Homo sapiens: one gene and its partner. The protein of the gene in region 1 purifies or fractionates together with the protein of each later gene. This does not show direct contact. Each region holds a gene or a part of one and is shown in the gene's direction. Other genes may lie near its edges. The genes, in order: PRPSAP1 and IVNS1ABP.

What was found.
Region 2: the proteins of PRPSAP1 (region 1) and IVNS1ABP purify together in Homo sapiens (affinity purification with mass spectrometry; 3 studies listed by BioGRID and IntAct, with this or other methods). This does not show direct contact.

What each region holds. Positions count from the first base shown.
Region 1 is NC_000017.11:76,312,149-76,316,060, reverse strand, and holds part of PRPSAP1 (phosphoribosyl pyrophosphate synthase-associated protein 1), read left to right. Parts: intron 1-2,169; coding exon 2,170-2,240; intron 2,241-3,044; coding exon 3,045-3,191; intron 3,192-3,912. UniProt on the Homo sapiens protein: Seems to play a negative regulatory role in 5-phosphoribose 1-diphosphate synthesis.
Region 2 is NC_000001.11:185,315,413-185,319,324, reverse strand, and holds the start of IVNS1ABP (influenza virus NS1A-binding protein), read left to right. Parts: upstream 1-2,081; 5' UTR 2,082-2,372; exon of another isoform or gene 2,373-3,912. UniProt on the Homo sapiens protein: Involved in many cell functions, including pre-mRNA splicing, the aryl hydrocarbon receptor (AHR) pathway, F-actin organization and protein ubiquitination.

The sequences.
Region 1 (3,912 bases):
GATTACAGGCGTGTGCCACCATGCCTGGCTAATTTTTATATTTTTAGTAGAGACAGAGTTTCACCATGTTGGCCAGGCTGGTCTTGAACTCCTGACCTCAGGTGATCCGCCTGCCTTGGCCTCTCAAAGGTGGCCTGGCCAACGTGGTGAAACCCCACCTCTGCTAAAAATACAAAAAATTAGCCAGATGTGGTGGCACGTGCCTGTAATCCCAGCTACTTAGGAGGCTGAAGCAGGAGAATCGCTTGAGCCCAGGAGGCAGAGGTTGCAGTGAGCCGAGATCGTGCCACTGCACTCCAGCCTGGGAGACAGAGTGAGACTCTGTCTCAAGAAAAAAAAAAAAAAAAAAAAAAAAAAAAAGCGGATAGGTCAACATAACTGCGTGTTTACATGGTTTAATTTAAAAACAGAATCTCAGGAAGCTGCTCCTAATGTTGGTGGTTTGAAACCCCCCTCCCCCCATTTTAAGTGATTTTATATGCAAAGCCTTCTTGTCTTGCCCAAATTCAAGAAGTTGTCTTTGTTTCTAGGATGTGAAATCAGGAAATATATGTTTGTTGAAATGTATAAAGTAGTGGTGAATTTCAGCTCAACTGATTTGCCAGTATACAGAGAAAAACACCTGTTCTTTGAGATACACAGTGCCTGTTGGGAATCTGCAAAAATTGTTTGTTGGTAGTCACTAAACTCTTGTTACCCTGAATTTTATTCTCTTTCGCTTCCCCCACTACTAGCCTAATAAATATTTCAGAATAATAACAAAGTTTAAAGAAAGAATACTTAGCCTGTTCTTCTGAAGTAGTCTTTGTTTTTCTTCTCTGTTTACTAACCTCCTTTTGAGGATAAAATCTTATTTCCTTTCTTTATCCTGTAGTTTCCTTTGTACACTCATAGCCTTTCTTCAGATGCAGATTTTGCAGTCAGATAAAAGTCTCTACTTTAAGCACCAATTAAATCAGGAAAAGATGATGGGCCTGGAGTTATTGTCTTCAAGTTCCTGATTTTGAGGAAACTCTGATTATGTCAGTAGTGCAGTTATCTGATAGTAAGGTTACACTGTCCAAATAAGGTGACTTTGGAAGAAAATAACATAAAGCCATCTCATGATCTGGCAGCCTTTCGCTGTTTCGCTTTCTGCAGAGCGGCATTCCTTCTGCATGTCTCTGTCAGTCTCTGTGAGAGTGGGGTTTCTATCCACACAGCACTGCGGTGCAGCTTCTCCGTGTTGGCAGAATCTTCCATGCTCTGCTGGTTCGTTGTCTTTCCAGCTGTGCTGTGCAGTGCAATGTGCTGGCTGCTGAGCTCATGAGACACGGCCCGTCTCAACTGAGAAGTGCTGTGCGTATAAAACACACACCAAGTAGAGAAGACTTGATAGGAAAAAAGTGTAAGGCTGGGTGCGGTGGCTCATGCCTATAATCCTAGCACTTTGGGAGGCTGAGGTAGGAGGATTGTTTGCTTCCAGTTTGAAATGAGCCGGGGCAACATAGCAAGATCCCCTCTGAGAAAAAAAAGTGTAAAACATCTCATTAATTTTTATATCAGGTTGGGCGTGGTGGCTCAAGCTTGTAATCCCAGCACTTTGGGAGGCTGAGGCGGGTGGATCACCTGAGGTCAGGAGTTCGAGACCAGCCTGACCAACGTGGAGAAACCCCATCTCTACTAAAAATACAAAACTCAGCTGGGTGTGGTGGCGCATGCCTATAATCCCAGCTACTCGGGAGGCTGAGGCAGAATTGCTTGAACCTGGGAGGCGGAGGTTGCAGTGAGCCAAGATCGCGTCATTGCACTCCAGCCTGGGCAACAAGAGCAAAACTCCGTCTCAAAAAATACATACATACATACATACATACATACATTTTTATATCAGTTACATGTTGAAATTATAATATTTTGGGAATTGCATAAAATAAAATGTATTAATTTCATCTGTTTTTAATGTGGCTACTAGAAAATTCAAAGTAACATGTATGGCATGCCTTCTATTTCTTTTGGCCAATGCTGCTGTTTCTGAGAGATTGCAGGTTCATTGAGGGGGAATTTGCATGGTTTGTTTGTTTTTTGTCTGTATAGTGGTTTTGCCACCATTTCCAGGGAATTAGGTTGTGATTACATTTCTCTAGTGATACATGAATGACTGAGATCTTGTAATTTGTTTTGTTTTGCTAGTGATGATGGCCAAAGAGAAGCCACCGATAACTGTAGTTGGAGATGTTGGAGGCCGCATCGCAATCATCGTGGTATGGTTATATGTCATCCATGTGCAGAGGTGGCACTCCTGGCTCTTGGTCAGTAGGTTGTCCACTCTGGGACTGTATTTCTAGGAACGATGATCCGAATGGATCCATGTATCCTTTCTCACCCAAACTCCCTTGTGCCAAGTGGCAGAAACCTGTATCCAGGTGAACATACATTAAAGTATAACCTACAGATAGGAAATGAGCACAGTACTCCCGTGAGAAAATTCAGCACCTTCACCTTCATCATGTGGATTCTAGGTTCTTTAAACCAGCTCACCTAATCATGCTTGAGCGTTAGGGCCGAAAGATGAACTGAAGATGAGCTGTTCCGTTTTCACAAGTAAGAATGGGTGTCCCCGTGCAGACTCGTTCTGCATGTTGACATACTTTTTTTCCCAGCTCTAAATATCTGCTGGCTAGTGGGTCATGAGTCCTTTGCAGTAGCACACTTTATTTCAGTTTTCTTCTCATGTCACAGTCTATTTGAAAAAAAAATAAATGGAACGCTGGCTATGTGGGATTCACCAGAAACGTGAGACAGGAAAATGAGTGTTGGCAATCCTCAGCTCCAGCCGTAATGTCACAGGTGCTTGACTGCGCCCGCCTCTGACAGACACACAAGGTACTGTCAGGTGCTTCTGTTGCCATTTCTGGATGCTCGTTCTTTGACCCAGGCACACAGCTCTGATTTTCCATCAGAAATCCTCTGAAACTGAGTGCAGAAGAGAGTAGAGTGGTGTGTGCATTGACAGTATGGGCTAGAGGGTGTTTCTTTCCTACCAACTCACTCTGTTCTCCTCCCAGGATGACATTATTGACGATGTGGAGAGTTTTGTTGCTGCCGCGGAGATCCTGAAAGAGAGAGGCGCCTATAAGATCTATGTTATGGCCACCCACGGCATCCTGTCTGCAGAGGCCCCTCGCCTGATTGAGGAGTCCTCCGTAGACGAGGTCAGGCTGCTTCTAAATCTTGAGCCAAGATTTACTGCTGTGTTTTCTGGGAATAATAAAATGATTCAGTCAATACTAAATTGCTTAATCTGTCTATAGCTTTTCTAGCTTTTGCTGGCTAGCAGTTCGTTGGGACAGATACATGTTTAGGAATACAGATAGTCCACGACTTACCATGGTTCAACTTAGAAGTTTTTGACTTTATGATGATGCAAAACCATTGCAATTACGATGTAATGTATAGTATTCGATAAATTACTTGAGACACTTTATTTTAAAATAATCGCTTTTATTATAAAATGAAAGCCTTTGCCCTAGATGATTTTGCCACCTGCAGTCTAATGTAACTGTTCTGGGCATGTTTAAGGTAGGGCTAGGCCAAGTTAATGATGTTTAGTAGGTTAGGCGTATTAAATGCTTTTTTTTTTTTTTGAGATGGAATCTTGCTCTGTTGCCTAGGCTGGGAGTGCAGTGTGGCAATCTCGGCTCACTGCAACCTCTGCCTCCCGGGTTCAAACGATTCTCCTGTCTCAGTCTCCCAAGTAACTGGGATTACACGCGCCGGCCACCAGGCCTAATTTTTGTGTTTTTCTTAGAAACGGGGTTTCACCATGTTGGCCAGGCTGGTCTCAAACTCCTGACCTCAGGTGATCCACCTGCCTCGGCCTCCCAAAGTGCTAGGATTACAAGCATGAGCCACTGTGCCCGGCCTAAATGCATT
Region 2 (3,912 bases), on another chromosome or scaffold:
CTGGGTTGTCAGACTGTTGCAGTGTGACAGTGCTTGTGTTCATATAACTATCATTTTATGTAATAATACCCCCCAAATGCAAGAGTAGTGATGTAACATTTTTGGGCCATGGTTGACAAAATCTTGGAAAGTGAAACCAAGGATAAGGGGGACTGCTATATTAAGAGCAAAATCTTACAACATAATGTGTTACTTTAAGAGGTAGAAATTAACCATCAGGTTCCCTGAAAGGCATAAATGGAATGCATAAGTTATGCTATTATTCATAGAGAAGGTAATAAGTAAATTTGAAATTCCATACAAAGCAAAAATACAATGAGTGTGGGCACACTGTAGCTTTAAGAAAAGTGTTGACTGTTTCAGGTCACAAAGACACTATTTAGAGTATAGCAAGTGTGACCATGTGTCCAACAGGCCAGCAGTCATGTGTCTACGCAGAGTGGGCAATTCATACTCTCCCACTGGAAGGATGAAACCCATTGTATTAAAGAGCTTAAAAGTACGTACCCTGATAGTTTCATTTGTAAGAAAAGTAAACATTGCTGTCAGTTATTATCAGCAAGACAAAACAAGAGCACAGTGTCAAATGTCAGTCTTTTTCTCCTTAAGAAAGATATAAAAAATCACTCGAATAGACATCTTAGTTCTTGTTTCCTCCTACAATTAATTGTCCGGGGGCGGGGGGACGGGGTGCGGGCGGGGCGAGGGAGACATACAAGAAATCTGTGAGAAAAAAAGGGGCGGGGGAATAAGTCTCCTTGCCTCAAGATTTTAGAAAAAAAGTTGTAAACCTATTGCAGATGAAGGCTCCCACAATTTATTTTTCCTGCTTCTATAAGCATAAATAGTTAATGATAAAAATGGTAAGAGGCATTGACAAAGAGCTCCTAGAATGTCTACAAATTAAGGTGAGTGATCAAACACAAGGTTAGGCCTAGACAGCTTAAGTGTCCTCCACAAATCAGGATAAGCGTTAACAGGACATTAACCTGGAAGCCTTTACCAAACTCTAATTTGGATATAATTTTACCTCACTAAATCCCTCACCTTCAATCAAAACTCCTTTCCCACGTGCCCTTCAGAGTCCACGAAGTTGCTGCCAGATCCCAGCTTAAATCACGTTTCGCTTTCACAGATCTCCCTCCCGGGCAAGGTGGTGGGGTGGATAATGAAGTTTGGCACCTGGTATAAAGGGCCCCAGTAGGTTAGGATAGGAACTACCACTTCTCAGGTGTGTTTTCTTTTTCCGGAAGAGGGCAAGACCAGTAGAGAACTGACTCAGCGTCTCCGACACGAGGAGAGCTGCACGCAGACAAAACAGACCCGGGGGGTGAAAAGTGGAAGTAAACTGGTGTTTGTGGCACCACTGATTTACACCTTCTCTGACTTCTCCAATATTTTTTTCCCCAAGTGACTCAATCTTCTCACCCAAACCAGGCCAAATGAGGGGTTAGTTGTTCGACTTCTTCTCAGAGTGCCTCTCTTCTTCCTCACACTCTCCACGCCTCCTCTCCGCACCCGCCACTTCCCCCCCGACCCTTAAGTTAAGGGCTCATGCCCAACTAGATCCTAATGTCCACGACGAGCAGCTCCAGTCTAGGGGGGGTTGCCTAGAAGTAGGTCTGACGCCGAGCAATCTAATCTCCCACGTCTGATCTCTCAGGCTATTGTGCCTCGAGGGGAAGTCAGAACAGGTGAGGGCGGCTTGAGGGAACCAGTTCCGGGACAGGCAACGCACAGGGCGGCGAAAGTGAGGGTGCGGGGCAAGGAACGGAGGGAGGGACAAAGGCGCGATAAGAGGAACGAGGGCGCCCCCCGAGCGCCGCCTATCTCCTCAGGATCACCTTGCGCTGACCTAGTTACACCGAGAAGGAAGGAACCCCAGTAGACCAGGGAGGAAGGCGGGGCGGGATGTGGGCGGGGCCGCGGGTGGGGCGGGGCTTAGAGTGGGATCTTTATGGAGCTCGCCTGTGATTTGCAGATGGATTCGAGACGGAAGCGGGCTGGGAGGCGTCGGCGGCGGCAGCGCACGTGGTGACGTGCGAGGGGGTGCGGCGCGAGCGGTCGGCGGCGGCGGAGGCAGTGTCTCCCGGTCGCGCGTGGAGGTCGGTCGCTCAGAGCTGCTGGGCGCAGTTTCTCCGCCTGCTGCTTCGGCGCGGCTGTATCGGCGAGCGAGCGAGTTCCCGCGAGTTCTCGGTGGCGCTCCCCCTTCCTTTCAGTCTCCACGGACTGGCCCCTCGTCCTTCTACTTGACCGCTCCCGTCTTCCGCCGCCTTCTGGCGCTTTCCGTTGGGCCGATTCCCGCCCGCTTCCTCCTGCTTCCCATCGAAGCTCTAGAAATGAATGTTTCCATCTCTTCAGAGATGAACCAGGTAATACGCGCTGGTTCTACGAACGACAGATGAGGGAGACGGCGCGGCTAGAATCCGAGAAGAAGGGATGGCGCCGGCGGATGGGAAGAGGGTGGGAGGCGCGGAAGCGGTGTCCTCATCAGGGGAGGCAGCCCCAAGCGGCCGCCGCCGCCCTCTGGGACGTGAAGCCCGCGCCGCGCTGGGCCCGCGCTCCAGCGCTGCCATGGTTGCCAAGTTGCGTTGGCGGCCGAGAGCGGGCGCCGGTCGCCTCGGAGAGCGCGGAGGCTGGAGCCCCTTTGCTACACTGGCGCGGGTGAGGCAGGCTGGGAGGAACAAGAGTTTTTTGTTCGAAGGGTTTTGGGGGGCCTGGGTTAGGGCGCCGCGGGCGGGGATGACCCGCCGGAAGGAGGGCGCGGGACTCCCCGTTCTTGCTGTCAGGAACGGACGCCTCGCCTCGGGTTTGCCTGGGGTTTGGGATTCTCTTCTGGAAGAGCTCTCGAGACTCGGCTCGTGTGGGCGGGCAGCCAGCCCCGGGCCTGGAGTAGGGTGGCACGGAGTCCCCGATCGCCGTGGGCCGCGGGGTCCTTTGTTCCCGCTCCACGTTGCCCGCTTTTCTTGCCAAGCGCGGGGAGAAGGGGGCGGGAGGAGGGAGGGAGCGGCTGCCCTGACGTGTCGGTACTGAGTGACTGCGGGGCTGGCCAATCCGGGGCGGGGGTGTGCGGGTGCTGGGGGCCTCGCCTCGCAGCCTGCGGAGTGGGCGCCGGCCTGGCTGCGCGAGGAGGAAGGCCTGGGACGCTCTTTCTTTTTTATGAAAGAAATCAGTGGCAAGATTTGCTCTTTTTCCGTCCCTCCACGCTTTTGGTTAAGTGTCTCTGATTATAAGCTCTTGATGATAGGAAGGTATCAGGCTGAGGGTTGAACCTAGGGTAACTTGAACCACTACTTGAGAACTACATTTACTTTTTCCCCCAATAGGTAGTGGACATATCTATTGGTTTGAGACAGCTGACATTTCAAGGAGAAATCAGATGTCCAAAAGGGCGCATTTTTGTGATGGAGCGTGCAGTGATGGAGCGTTAGAACACCTTGGCATCAAGCTGTTCGTTGAGTGTGTCGTGGTCTTCTGTCTACTAATAGATGACAACTCTGGAAGCCTAGTACCACTCTTAACAGATGAATAAGTACAGCATGGACTAGACTGCCACAGGCCATGCTTTCTTTTAATAATTCTAGCACCAGTGATTGATTTAGGAAAAACAAAATACTGATGATTACTTTTAGGCTAAAGCCTGCTGACACTTCTGTCTTAAAGATACTGAAAGAGTAGTTGTATTTGTTAAGTCTGGACGTGAGGTAAACATGGACTTTAGAATTGAATTGAGACTAGTATCATTTAACGCCAGCTGGCAGGCTGCTTATCAAGCTTATAATTTGGTAGCCAGAGGTAAACGGAACTTGAGCCACTGACCAAAGAGAGCCCTGGAATGGTTTTCCTCTGTGTTTTCCTAATAGATGATATCTCTGGTTAACTAATAGATACTAATTTCTATAGCCATTGTCT